4 linked regions of the Homo sapiens genome follow. The protein of the gene in region 2 purifies or fractionates together with the protein of the main gene of each other region. This does not show direct contact. Each region holds a gene or a part of one and is shown on either strand. Other genes may lie near its edges.

What was found.
Region 1: the proteins of RASGRF2 (region 2) and NOSIP purify together in Homo sapiens (affinity purification with mass spectrometry; one large-scale study listed by BioGRID and IntAct). This does not show direct contact.
Region 3: the proteins of RASGRF2 (region 2) and GAR1 purify together in Homo sapiens (affinity purification with mass spectrometry, with the first as the bait; one large-scale study listed by BioGRID). This does not show direct contact.
Region 4: the proteins of RASGRF2 (region 2) and CSTF2 purify together in Homo sapiens (affinity purification with mass spectrometry; one large-scale study listed by BioGRID and IntAct). This does not show direct contact.

Annotation. Positions count from the first base shown.
Region 1 is NC_000019.10:49,560,057-49,563,769, forward strand, and holds part of NOSIP (nitric oxide synthase-interacting protein), read right to left. Parts: intron 637-3,713; coding exon of another isoform or gene 636-636; coding exon 566-635; intron 1-565. UniProt on the Homo sapiens protein: E3 ubiquitin-protein ligase that is essential for proper development of the forebrain, the eye, and the face. Catalyzes monoubiquitination of serine/threonine-protein phosphatase 2A (PP2A) catalytic subunit PPP2CA/PPP2CB.
Region 2 is NC_000005.10:81,089,302-81,093,084, forward strand, and holds part of RASGRF2 (ras-specific guanine nucleotide-releasing factor 2), read left to right. Parts: intron 1-3,499; coding exon 3,500-3,660; intron 3,661-3,783.
Region 3 is NC_000004.12:109,818,549-109,821,999, reverse strand, and holds part of GAR1 (H/ACA ribonucleoprotein complex subunit 1), read right to left. Parts: intron 3,000-3,451; coding exon 2,940-2,999; intron 1-2,939. UniProt on the Homo sapiens protein: Required for ribosome biogenesis and telomere maintenance. Part of the H/ACA small nucleolar ribonucleoprotein (H/ACA snoRNP) complex, which catalyzes pseudouridylation of rRNA.
Region 4 is NC_000023.11:100,830,178-100,833,890, reverse strand, and holds part of CSTF2 (cleavage stimulation factor subunit 2), read right to left. Parts: intron 3,084-3,713; coding exon of another isoform or gene 3,024-3,083; intron 2,842-3,023; coding exon of another isoform or gene 2,669-2,841; exon of another isoform or gene 2,383-2,668; intron 2,377-2,382; coding exon 2,235-2,376; intron 1,158-2,234; coding exon 982-1,157; intron 712-981; coding exon 419-711; intron 1-418. UniProt on the Homo sapiens protein: One of the multiple factors required for polyadenylation and 3'-end cleavage of mammalian pre-mRNAs. This subunit is directly involved in the binding to pre-mRNAs.

The DNA.
Region 1 (3,713 bases), on a different chromosome or scaffold from region 2:
CAGAGTGATGGAGGGGCGGAGCAACAGGAGACATGTCCGTCTCCAAAGCCCCAGAGAGAGGCACAGAGACAACGCGGTGGTGGGGGTGGGGGACTCAGAGAGAAACAGGCAGTTGGGAGCCGCTGCCTGTGTGCTGGGGCCACGGGCTGAACCCACAGGGAGTTGTCAACCCTGGAGGGTGAGAGGCAGACAGGCCTGGTCACTGAGTGGCAGCTTGGTGGAGGGGCTGACGGCTGACTCCCCTCCACCCTTCTGACTGTGACCAAGCTCAAGTGCCTGTCCCTCTTTGGGCCTCAGTTTCTTCCTCTGGAACATGGGGTAACAAGAGCACCCTCCCTGACACTCTGTTGGGAGGAGTGAGTTCATGCGCAGAAGGCAGAGAACACAGTGCCGGGCCACATGGGGTCATGGGATCACCCAGCTGTTGTTTACATGGTCATGGCCATCAGTGTATATCGGGGGCGGGAGAGAGACAGGGACAGAGGAAGCAAAACCTGGGGCACGAGGGGAGAGGGTGACTCCAAGACACAGCCATGTCCCGCCTCTTCCCACCCCAGCCCTGCACCTGTGTCCTTCTTCTTCTCGTGGTAGGTGTAGACGGCCCCTGCGGTGCAGTTCTTGCCATGCCGCGTCATCCTAGGGAGGAAGGGACAGTGGCAGGACTGTGGTTACCGGAGGCAGGCAGCACAGGGAAGACCTCTGCAGCCCTCAGAGCTGATCTGCCCCCCTTGATGGGAAAGCGGAGGCGGAGAAGGGGGGTGAGGTGGAAGAGAGGGAGGGCATGTGGTCGCCAGGCCTCCTCCAGGAAGTCCTCCTTCCAGACTCACCTAGACTCATTTATATGTGAAAATAGCACCTTTAACAACAAAACTCTTTGTTTGGAGGTAAGAGGGTGAGAGACCAGAGTTCAAATTCTAGCCACTACTTCAGATTAGCTAGGGTGGTGGCTGTGCCATTTAATGGAGGGGAAAAAAAAAGACACCAAGGGGGCCACTATTGTTGATGAATCCACTCCACCTTCCCTTCCCCTCTCATATCTGTAAGCTCTGACTGAGGCCAAGGCGTGGACCAGCCCAGTGATTGGCTCAAGGCTGGGCACTTAGCTAAGGCTTGACACTTAGCTAAGGCTTGACCCAATCGCTGCCTGCCAGTCCACTAGCGACTGGATCTAGCAGCTGTGATTATGTCTCAGATCGACCGATCAGAGGGCAGGTCAGAGTAGGGCTCTGTGTCTAGGGGAAGAGCTACCTCCACTCCCACTGCAGGTAAAGGAGGAAGAGAAGACCCCAGAACCCTGGAGCTCAATTCAAAAAGCAAAGCTTTTTTTATTCTGTAAGTTTTCAAACACATACAAAACCAGAATAGTATAAGGAACCCCCATGATGTACCCATGTCCTGCGGTCCAGCAGCTGTCAACATTTTGCCACCTTACTTTGATACCTTTGATCATTCCCCATACTTAAGGGCAACCCCCACCCTTTTAAATGACTTTATTGAGACACAATTCACATACCATAAAATTAACCCTTTTAAAGTGGTTTCAGACCAGGTGTAGTGGCTCACGCCTGTAATCTCAGCACTTTGGGAGGCTGAGTCAGGTGGATCACTTGAGTTCAGGAGTTCAAGATCAGCCTGGCCAACATGGTGAAACCCCGTCTCTACTAAAAATACAAAAATTAGCTGGGCGTGGTGGCACACGCCAGTAATCCCAACTACTCGGGAGGCTGAGGCACTGAGAATCACTTGAGCCCAGGAGGCAGGGGTTGCAGTGAGCCGACATCATGCCACTGCACTCCAACCTAGACAGAGCAAGGCTCTGTCACAATTAAAAAAAAAAAAAAAAAGACATTGCCTAAGCCAAGATAATGCACATTTATTCCTATGTTTTCTTCTAGGGGTTTGATCATTTTAACTTTTACTTTTTGAGTTAATTTTTGTGTATGGTGTGAGGAAGGGAGCCCCCTACTTTTCTGGAGTTCATTTGTAAAAGGAGAAGCCCTGAACCCACAGAGGCTGGGCAGCTTTCACCAAGACTGCTTGGCCAGTAAACAGCCTGCATGCCTGTTTGTTTGTTTGTTTTTTGAGACGGAGTTTCACTCTTGTTGCCCAGACTGGAATGCAATAGCATGATCTTGGCTCACTGAAACCTCTGCCTCCCAAGTTAAAGCGATTCTCCTGCCTCAGCTTCCCAAATAGCAGGGATTACAGGTGCCTGCCACCACGCCTGGCTAATTTTTTTGTATTTTTAGTAGAGACGGGGTTTCACCGTGTTGGCCAGGCTGGTCTTGAGCTCCTGACCTCAGGTGATCCACCTGCCTCAGCCTCCCAAAGTGCTGGGATTACAGGCGTGAGTCACTGTGCCTGGCCCCTGCAGGCTTTTTTATCCCTTAAAATGATTTAGAGCCAGGCTCAGGGCTCACGCCTGTAATCCCAAAACTTTGGGAGGCTGAAGCAAGAGGACTGTTGAGCCCAGGAGATGGAGATGAGCCTAGGCAACACAGCAAGATCCATCTCTATTAAATTTAAAAACAAAGAAGTTGATGGCCAGGTGCAGTGGCTGATGCCTGTAATCCCAGCACTTTGGGAAGCCGAGGCGGGGGCGGATCACGAGATCAAGAGATCGAGACCATCCTGGCCAACATGGTGAAACCCTGTCTCTACTAAAAATACAAAAATTAGCTGGGTGTGATGGCACATGCCTGTAGTCCCAGCTACTCGGGAGGCTGAAACAGGAGACTCATTGAACCTGGGAGGTGCAGGTTGCAGGGAGTGGAGATTGCACCACTACACTCCAGCCTGGTGACAGACAGAGACTCTGTCAAAAGAAAAAGAAGAGAAGAGAGAAGATCTAGTAACATTATATACTTGTCTCACTCATCTCTAAGTTGCCACCTAAAAATTCTCCCAAGCTTAAACAGTTGCAAAGGATACAATTTCCAGCAACGTAAATGTGTAGCTGATGGAATCTAAATACTGTAATAATTTGAGACCATTTGAAAAATGCAAGAAAAAGCTGTTTCAACAGCAGAAAATTATACATGTCCTGTTTTTCTCTTTGAACTTGTATTTCCGTTCCACTTCCCTCTCTGCCACCCATTTTTAATCTAACATCGTTTTTTCTTTTTGTTTTTTTTTTTGAGACAGGGACTCACTCTGTTGTCCAGGCTGGAGTGCAGTGGTACAATCACAGCTCACTGCAGCCTTGACCTCCTGGGCTCAAGTGATTCTCCTGCCTCAGCCTCTCGAGTAGCTGGGACTACAGGCATGTGCCACCACGCCCAGCTAATTTTTATATTTTTAGTAGAGATGGGGTTTTGCCATGTTGCCCAGGTTGGCCTTGAACTCCTGGACTCAAGTGAACTCCTGGCCTCCCAAAGTGTTGGGATTACAGGTGTGAGCCACTGCACCTGGCACATCATATCTTTTGTGCTTGAAAATTCTTTTTTTTTTTTTTGAGATCGAGTTTTGCTCTTGTTGCCCAAGCTGGAGTGCAATGGCACGATCTCAGCTCACTACAACCTCCGCCTCTTGGGTTCAAGCAATTCTCCTGCCTCAGCCTCCTAAGTAGCTGGGATTACAGGTGCATGCCACCATACCCAGCTAATTTTTTGTATTTTTAGTAGAAACAGGGTTTTACCATATTGGCTAGGCTGGCCTTGAACTCCTGACCTCAGGTGATCCACCCGCCTCGGCCTCCCAAAGTGCTGGGATTA
Region 2 (3,783 bases):
ACTTTTAGGGATGATATGTGGTCTATTTCTATGTGCGTGTGTGTGTGTGTGCATGCGTGCATGTGTGCATGTAGTTTCCACCTTATGTGAATTTTTATTCATAAGAACTAGAAAAATACGTCATCCAGATCATCTGAAAGATCACCTCAGAATAAAGGCATCAGCAACTCTTGAATGTTTTTTGATGAGGATTTAGTGATTGAAATAATGAAAGTTTTATTGTAAATGGTTTCCCATTATTAGTCTGTTGGATAGGATACAGAAGACTATATTATAGAAATGGTCTGATATTATCATTGTTTTCTAAAATCTATTAATAGTTTGTTGAATAAATGTGTGAGTGTCTGAGGCAATGATAGGAAAACAGTCTAGCTGCATCACTGGAGGTCAAATCCTGTCTCCCCTACTTCCTTGCTGTGTGATATTGGGCAATTTACTTAACTTCTCTATGCCTCAGTTTCTTCTCCTTAAATTGGAGTTAATAGTAGTAGCTATCTTTTAGGATTGTTGTAAAAATGAGCTAATGCTCACAAAAGCACCTAGACTAGTACCTGCAAGATTATGATAAACTTTAAAAGCCAAGATCCAAATTTTGGAATGACTTCCTATTTTCAATAACATGAAATATGTATGAATATTTAGTAGAAGATAAAGGCACTCTAAGCTGACATTTTGTACAAAATCTATTATGCATTGTGAACAGTGTTTTGTGGAAATGTAAGTCAGGAAAATGAAATATAGGTGACTGAATACAGGACTAAGTGCCTTGAGAATAAGACATGGACCTTTCTGGTATTTTAATCATTCCTAGACTCTAAGTCATGCGCTTTCAATGTACCAGTGTTCTCTGAAATTTTAACTTTGGGTCTAGAGACAGTTATATCTTCTCAAATGCCTAACCCAATAAGCTGGAAATGGTTCTTCATTCTTTTTCATTACTCAGTAGAATTAAGAATAAGGGGCATAGTCTTGAATGCCATTCTGTGGGAATGAAGTGATTGAATTAACAGAAATTTTGTTGGAAGTTGACCCCAATTATTAGAGAGACCGATGACCAGGATGCAAAGAATCATGCTATAGCAATGATCTGATGAATTACTAAATGAATACTAAGTATTTCTCTAATTTGTATTAGCTAGCGAGGAATCCTTTCTTCATATCTCATAGCTGTATTGAAACATCATGTCAAATGCAAGAGAAAATGTGAAAAAATCCTCTTAAAATGCTTTTTCCAAATATGATTATTTCACAAACCATAGTGTTGCAATTTCTCACTTTTAATTCAGATGTATACATTTCTGTATGTACCTAATGTACACAGTCTCCTATGTCTCCCTTCTACTTGGATATAAGGTAAACAATTATAGATTAAGCATATTAGTGTATGGTTGCCAAGGAAACATTTATTTTTTTTGTCTCACAGCTGAAATTCACAGTAATTGCTAATATATGAGCTAACAGCGTATTCTGTAATTTCTTTCTAAATTGTATTTATTTTTATGTATTCTATAATTTCTGACATAGAAAATCACTAAATTGCTAGAAGCATTTACTAACGAACACATTATTATTGAGTTTTCACAGCTTGCTTATAGCCTTTCTGAAAATGACTCCCAGAGCTATTTGTCCACCAAGATTATTTGTCCAAGCCTCAGTCTTTCACTCAGCCCTAAGTCATGGGCCTGATGGCTCATGGCCCCCATGGCAGAGCTAGAACTTACTCTCTTCCCATCTGTCTTCTTTCTGAGTCTTATATTTTATGTGGCTGAATCCCCTGGCTACATCACTCCCTTCTCACTTAGGCATGACCTTAGGCGAGCTACTTGGCCTCAGACCTCAGTTTCCCCATCTGTGAAATGGGAGGCATTAAACCATGTCCTCTGCAAGGCCTCTGGCTTTGATTGCATCCTGAGCCCTATGAGCCCATCCTTCTGCTGCTATGACTTGCTCATAGACTTCCCTAACTTCTGCCTCCTGCTTTCCCCTGCCTCCAGTACTCTATGTCATTCCTTGCTGCCTGGGCTGCCAGCCAGTTTGCTCCCACCCACCTCACCTCCTTCATTCACTCTCCTCTTGCCCATCCCTTCGTGGGAGTCAAGCCGTCTCCTGGCCCATTGTTCCCCAATCCCACACCCTCACCCAGGACTTCTTCCTTGCTATTCTTTAGGCCCAGAATAGCTGCCTACTCTGTGTCTGTCAAGCATCCCACTGCAGCACTCACCAAAATAGACAGTGTGAGATCCAGGCGTGGAAACTTGGGTCTCTTGCCACCCTGTACACCTTTCAATTTCTGTTAAAAAGTAGATGCAATTTGCAACATTCATATGTTAATATGAACATTTTGTGACTCACAATCATAGTTTTACCAACTTACATATATATATTATTTATATGGAGAACTTTAGTGGTCTTTTTCTGCTTATTGAAGTAGTTTGTGCTCATTAAAAAAATCAAGAAGCTAGAAAAATGTATGAAGAGGAAAATAAGGTTGTCTACAATCTCATCTCTTAGTGATGACTGTTGTTAATGTTCAAGGGTTGGATATGCACTTAATGATTCTTCTGAGGGTAATATGAGCCTGCAGAAGGCTGCATTTGGGGTAGGTGGTAGGTTAAATAAATGTAAGAAATTTGACTATCTCAGGGCACTTCAGAAGTCAGAATCAAGAGGTTGGCAAGAATCTTTGTTAGTACTTTTTGGTTTGATATTTAACTTAGATTGGAATTTTATTTTTGGGGTAGGGGGAGGTTGCTATGAGGGTGAAATCTAGAAATAATCAAAGGTAATGTTGGTATTATAAAGTCTGTGTATAGCTTCCCACATTAAATGGAAGGTAGTTTTGCTCCTAGGAGTATACTGGGTATAGATTTTATGTGGATTATTTTCTGTTTAGATTCCACAAATAATTTTTATCTCACATAATTTAAATGTAACTTGAAATAGGTGTCCTTTAAAAATAGTTCTTAGCTAAATTTCACTGAATTATATAATTTATATATTTTTATAATATACATGTATTGTACATTCTATTTTTAAAATACAAGGTAAACTGTATTAATATGCTATTTATCTACATTCTGTGCTTCAGGAAGAATACATTGCATTTGCTTTTTGTTATCATATTATTCTATATAATTATGCAATATGTATGTTATTATTAAATACATAAATTGATTGGATCAGATCACTAAGGACAGATGGCAGAAGTGCTTCATTCTTTGAATTCAATTTTGCCATCTTTCAAACTTATTTTCCAGTTTATAGATGAAGAATCAAGTCTAAAGTGTTTCACAAAAATATTAGGAACAGTTCAGCCCTTAAAATACAATGCATTGTTTCTTCTGCTCAGACTGGAAGAGAGTTACTTGTTCTGATGATGTGTCACATAAATCAATCCCTGGTATTTTGGGAAACAGACCTTAGTGTTTATTGCCGTGGACATGGTCCTCACTTGACAGAATTTTAATTGCTGTGTATTCTTCATTTTTGTAATCACCAGGTTCTCTTATTCAAGTACCTTCCGTTGAGAGGGGGAAACTTAGTAAAGTTCGCCTGGGTTCGTTGTCTTTGAAAAAGGAAGGAGAGAGACAATGCTTCTTATTTACAAAACACTTTTTAATATGTACAAGAAGTTCAGGAGGGAAGCTTCATCTGCTCAAGGTACTGGTTTTCCATAACTGTTCCATTTATCTTCCAAGCACTTACAAGTTATTGAAGTTAACTCATTTGAGACTTTCCCATGCTTGGTATTATCATAAAACAGATTGTCATGATTGCATAATG
Region 3 (3,451 bases), on a different chromosome or scaffold from region 2:
ATCCCCCGACAGGCCCAGGTATGTGATGTTTCCCTCCCTGTGTCCATGTGTTCTCACTGTTCAACTCTCACTTACGAGTGAGAACATGTGGTGTTTGGTTTTCTATTCCTGTGTTAGTTTACCTTAGTTTCCTTATCTGTAAAATGTAGAGAATAGAGTATCTATCTCACATGTTTGTGTGATGATCAAAAAAGTGATGTATATAAGGCACTTGTACTTTGGCACACAATAAGCATTACATGCATATTAAAAAATCAAGACCAATTCAATATCATTTCTCTTTAGAAATAGATTATTTAACATTTCCACTCAACAGAACTGCCGTAAGAAAAATAAAACTATTAAAAAACACAGCATTAAAATTCAAAATAAAGCATTCGCATACTAGTTGTTTCAAGTCTTTAATAAAGGATCAAAAGGGTATCTTCTGAACACACAAAGTAATGAAGGATATACAGAAACTATACCCATCCTATAATTGGGGTTAAAGAGGACATTTCTCAAATAATGAGATGTAAAGAGCATATTGTATCATAGTTCTTCTACATAAAACACACGAGGATTTCAAAACTGTAATATATGACTTATAATAAGATCTCTGAATCCCTCTCTAGATATCACCTTATTACTCATCTTCCCTTCACAGCCCATCATCTCAAAAATATTGTCTAGATCTACATTGTTCAATATGGCAGCCACCAGCCACAGGTGGCTTATATTTACATTAATTAATGTTTAAAAATTCAGTTCCTGAGTCACATGAGCCACACTTCACGTGCTCAATAGCTACATGTGGCTAAGAGCTACTTTACTGGGCAGGGATTCCCATCACTACAAAAAGTTCAAGTGGAGAGCACTGGTCTACAAACTTCACAATAACGCAGGCTGGGTAAGGAGGGCTGAATCTCAACATAGCAGGGGGTATGGAAACCGGGAGAGGTAGAATGTACTCAAGTTAGTATCTGTAATTAAAAAGCAAAAACCCAAAAAACTAAACAATAAGCCCCCAAATAAATAATTCTGAGAAATTTAAGTGATTTAAGGGATTCTGATGAATTTAAGTGGCTATTACCAGCATTTTTTTTTCAGGTCACAAGATGAGAATCCCTTTTCAGCATTGTTTCTTTCTGGGCTCAACAGCTCCAGGCACGCCAGAAGCAGTCAATCCCCTGAGTACTTGCCAAGGTTTCTACAACTAGTAGCCATATGCTGACAACAAGCTATTGTCTCCCTCTCATTTCCTAATCCATTCTGGCTCCCGGGCCCACCAATGCACTGGCTCCATGACTCCCTGATGTCTATGTGGCTGTCTTCCAATGAACACTTTGCAGCCTTTTGCCATAGCTGAGCAGTCCCTCCTGGAAACACTCTTTCAATTTTTGTGATACCACTTTTATGACAGGCTTGTGGTTTGCCTTTTTTTTTTTAACTGGCAATTACTTCTGAGTTTCCACTACCAGACCTTTAGTTTTAGGAGGTGCCCCAAAACTCTTCATAGGTGCTCTTTTCCTTTCATTCTTTCTTCCTACAATGTTTCATGTACTGTCTGTATACTTAACAAATTCCCAATTCTATTTCCAGTCTAGACTCTTCCTTTAAACTGACCATGACTGTCTCACAAGTACCTCAACCTCACTATGTCCAAAACCCAACTCATTATCTTCCCCCAATCCCCCTCCTCTGCATTGTTGCCCATTTCATTAATTGGTACCATCACCCACAAAGATGTTGATGTCAGACATCTGAAAGATGGTGATTTTTTTACTTCTTCAATTTCAATAGCTAGTCAATTACCAAGTCCTATTGATTCTACTTCCTGTATCTTTCATAAATCCATTTTTTCCATTTCCACTGTCACTACCGAGTCCAAAATACCATCTCTTTTAGAACTACTATTATAGCCTCCTATCTGGCCCCTCTCACACAATATTGACCGCTTCCCAAGGTGCCTTTTTATCTTCCCAGTATTCTTTTGAAGCATTCATTTAACTGTGTTATCCCATTATTCAAAAATAAAACACAATTGAAACTAAGGTCTAAACTCTTTCCTGTCACCTGAAGGCTTAAGTTAATCAAGCCCCCTCCTACCTCTCTGGTCTTAATTCACAACTTTCCCCACCTCTCCTAAATGTTTCATTCCTAACCTATATGTCTGCCTTTTTGTATCCTTTCAGTTGCCTGCTCTCAGAGACTGCACATACTGTTTTCTCTACTTGGAATGCACTTTCCTCTTCCTCTTTGACTAGCTCAGCAGCTCTCAAGTGTTTGACTAACTACATCAAAATTATCCAAGTGCTTTTCCTTTTTAAAATTGAATCCTGGACGCTACTTAAGAGCTCCTAGGTCAAATTTCCAGAAGTGGAAACTAGAGATACATCTTCTTAAAAGCTCCCCAAGATAACTCTGACATGCAACCAGGTGTGGAAATCACTGTTAGTCAACAATCAGGCCTCAGCTTCAAGCTCACTTTTTCAGGAAACACTACAGACTTAAAAAGCTGGTGGCACTACAAAGCTTCTCATGGCAACCTGTATTTTTCCTTCATAGCATATATCATGTTATTGAAGTTCTTGTGAAATCACTTAGTACCTACCGCCTCTCAAATAACGTAAGTTTTACAAATTAAGATTCTACCTAGAATGTTTGGTCATGAAAGCTTTTCAATAAGAGAGTTTTACATAAACAAAAAACTCTTACTCTAGCAGTTTACAGATTTTGGTAATATGAGCAAAAGTTGTAATTTTTACTTTCTAAAGGCTGTATCAAATAAATCACTTTTAAAGATTAGTGTGTTCAATATTTATAGCATGGAACATTTCAATTTAAGAGCTTTACTAGTGATATGTTGGGAAAGTCTCAAGTGCTCCAAGTAGGACTTTCCTAAGATAGGTCGTTCCCTTATAAAACCAAGGATCCCAAGTATCATAAGTTTGACTCACCTTCTGTAGTTTTTTAAAGGATGAAGCCTTCATGTTTTCTGACAACTTAACTGAAAAATACTATTATTTTCATTAAGGAACAAATGAGCAATTAAGATGAAAGATGATATCAAATGTTCTGAATTCATGTATAATTTCAAAAACAAGGTTAGAATGTATGGATATATATAGGAAAGATAAGAAATGAATTTCCAGGGGCTGGGCGTGGTGGCTCACACCTGCAAACCCAGCACTTCGGGGGGCCAAGGCGGATGGATCACTTGAGGCCAGGAGTTTGAGACCATCCTGGCCAACATGGTGAAACCCCACCTCCACCAAAAATACAAAAATCAGCCGGGCATGGTGGCGCTCACCTGTAATCTCAGCTACTTGAAAGGCTGAGGCACGAGAATTGCTCGAACCCAGGAGGCGGAGGTTGTAGTGAGATGAGATCGTGCCACTGCACTCCACCCTGGGCAACAGAGTGAGTCTCTGTCAAAAAAAAAAAAAAAAAGGAAAAAAGAAAGGAAGGA
Region 4 (3,713 bases), on a different chromosome or scaffold from region 2:
CATTAGAATCATTTGGGGGAAGTTTTTCAAACTATCCATGCTCAGATCCTACTAATAAGAGATTCTGAGTTATACCTCGGATGAGATCCGGGCAAGTATATCTTGGAAAAAACCGTGTACATGATGTTGGTTTGTACCCCAATCAAGACTACTTTCTAACCCCTAAATTTTCAGGGGCTCTGCTCCAAATGAATAGCTATTTATTGTGGGATAAGGTTGTTTTTTTTTGAACTACAATCCTGATAGCCAGAAAATCACCACCCTAAGGGACAGAGAAGCTACAGGGAGATCCAAGTCTTCCCTTTCTAACAAGCTAAGAAACAGCCCAAGTCAGAAGGCAGTAATAATTAGGCTCAATAATCAATTCCTGAATAGATCAAGATTTCACTTGGATGCCAGAAGTCAGTGTTACACATACCTGTCTGGATCCCTGGGGGACAACCGCCCCCATGTTAATTGGACTGGGACCCTGCATTCCACTAGGTATAGGTCCTCTGGGGCCAGGCACTGGGCCTCTGGTATCCATGCCTCTGGCCTCCATCCCTCGGACTTCCATTGCACGGGCCTCCATCGCTCGGGCCTCCATTGCACGAGCTTCCATCGCACGGGCCTCCATTGCACGGGCCTCTAATCCTCTGGCATCTAACCCTCTTGCCTCCATGGCTCGGGCCTCCATCCCTCGTGCATCTATTCCTCGGGGATCCCTTCCACCTATAAAGAAAAATGTAACAAAACCATTATGTAGCTACTTGCATGTACTGCAAGAATGATGAACAATCCAAGAAAGATAGAAATCTCTTCTAGTCACATTTGTCCCCTCAGCTATTAACATATGAGACTATTGTCTCCTCCCCAGTTTCTCAGATTTGTGGATAAACCTTAAAGATGCTTGCAAACCTACTGTTCCAGCATTCTTTATCCCAGATTAGAGCCTAAGACAGTTGAGTTCATTATGGCATTTGCAATGTGATCTCCCCTTACCTCTGCCATCCAAGGGTGGACCCCTCTGATCTAGCATGGGTCCTCTTGGTTCTGCCATTAGAGGTCTGGGCTCGGGTAATGGCCCTCCCCTCAGTTCATGTGGGGGTGGTCCTCGGCTCTCATGGCCAGGGACATGGTGCATGGGTGGACCCTGATGAGGTGGTCCCAAGTAACCTCTGGAGATGGAGAAAAACGTTGTATTTTAAAATAGAACAAAACAACAACAAAGTACCAACCAGATCAGTAAGTAAACATCCAACAAAGAGCTGATGTAGTCTATGAATACTAACAAGAAAATAACACCAAATAGATGGAAGAAAAGCTACAGAGATATAAATCCATGTATTCTAGAATTTCGTTATTTGGTTCATAATTAGGGAGGAATCAACGAATATTCATTATATGTATGAGTTTGCAGAACAATGCATAAGAACATGAGCTCTGGATTCAGACTGTATGGGTTCAAATCTAGGCTCTATCACTTATTAGCTGTGTGATATTGGACACATTATTTAACTTTTCCACACATCAGTTTCACGTGTAAAATGGGACTAATAATGGTATCCATCTCACAGGATCTTGTGGATTTAATAAGATGATCTAAGTAAAGTACTCAGAGCAGAGTCAGAGGCATGATCCCCATTAATGTCAATTATTATTACTATCATTATTTTATTTATTTATTTACTTTTGAAATGGAGTTTCACTCTTGTTGCCCAGGCTGGAGTGCAGTGGCATGACCTCGGCTCACTGCAACCTCCACCTCCTGGGTTCAAGCGATTCTCCTGCCTCAGCCTCCCCAGTAGCTGTAATTATAGGCGCCCGCCACCACGCCCGGCTAATTTTTCTATTTTTAGTAGAGATGGGATTTCACCATGTAGGCCAGGCAGGTCTCGAACTCCTGACCTCAAGTGATCCACCCACCTTGGCCTCCCAAAGTACTGGGATTATAGGCGTCAGCCACTGCACCCGGCCTATTATTGCTATTATTAATATTTCCACTACTATAAATTTCCCTGTTCAAGTATGTATACTAAAATTTCCAATTTCTAAAAATATAATAGCTCAAAATGACATACTCAAGTACATAGTTCTGCCTTAGGAGAAGTGCTTACCCTTGGACAGTGGCCATGAATATTGATCTACCTTTTGAAGTAGGCAAACAGGTACAACTGGTACAGAAAGATTTTGTTCTCAGGGAAGAAGGGACAATTCTGATTTCTTCAACTGTTTCCTTCTATGTTAGTGCTTACCTAGGCTCTACCTCTCCAGTTACAGAAAGTAAAGTGCCTCCCCGTGGATCATTCGGAGCATCTCCTAACAAGCCTCGAGGGGTTGGGACATTCGCAGGCAAGGATCCCCGCTGCATAGCTGCTCTGGGGTCTTGCATCGGCACTGACAGGGAAACAAACGGGGAGTTACTGCTGTGAAAGACACATAAGCAAACAAGAAATGACTCTATATACCACTGACAACATAATTCAGACACCTTAGAGTGGGTGAAACCTCACCACAGCAGAATCCTCTTGCAGCTCAAGAACAGAAGCAGGGTGTAGGCAGAATCTGTGCCATGTCAGAGGTATGGATGGAATTATATAAAGAGCAAACTGGGGAGCAACCTGCCAAGGACTAGCACTGCGACCTGGAGAAACTTATGCTCCTGGTTTTCCTTCTAATCAATCTTAGTTCAAGGACCAGAGTCACAAAACAGAGGTAGAGTCTTGGCATATGTGAACACTGCCATGGCTCTGCAAGAACCCGCTGTCTCCTTACAGACTGCTATTCCATCCAAGCCTCCTGACACCAGTAGGGAGGGAGTACAGCCTCGGACAGATGCCCATATCATCCATGTTCTCTGCCCTGTGTGAAGAGGTCAATCTTAGGCTTGTGGCCTCAACAGGAAAAAATTAAAAAAACAAAAACCCAAAAACACTACCCTTTTGGGTTCTGAACGCGAGGATGACTGCCACGCAGCTCTTTTCCTCTCAACGTCCCACCCTGAACACCACAAGCAAAAGGAAACCCACAGATACAATGGGTACCTTGAACTCGCTCAATTGATGCAGGCCCGGCGGGTCCCACGGGCGAGTGCTGTAGGGTTCCTAGGTAAGCAGTAAGTTCAAAAGGAGAAAGAGCAGACACTTAAAATAGCTTGCATACACACGCAGAAACACACACACATGGAGATTGAGATTTACATATATAAGTTAAAAAGCCAAGAGTTCATCGGCTTGCTCCAGGCTACAAAATCTCCCTAAACTACACTAGCTCCTTTGGGTCTCTGAAATAGTTCCATTTTGACCAGATAGCTTTTGAAAGGGAATCCCATGGGGGCACTGGTTTGATCTAGGTGGGAATAACCTGACATTTTCGATTTTCACCTCTGCTACTAGTTTTCCGTTAGGTCTCCTTATGAAATCATTAGGAAAAAAATATATAAAAAGGATAGTTTTGAATCTTCTAGTTATGCAAAGAACATAAATGTAGTTTCAGAAGCAAAACATAAAAGAAACTGCACTGAATCTGGAAGGCAAGATTCATTCTGAAACGGCCATAACTGAAGTACGGCAATTCTATTTTTGTCACATTTTAAAGCACAAAAATTTCTGCTGTCAAAAATGTATCAGATGGGGAAATGCAGTGAATGAACTTTACATGATGAAAGAGAATATCACTCCACAAGAAATACTCTGCCACAGCAAGTCTTTGATAATAAACATCATGACAACAGC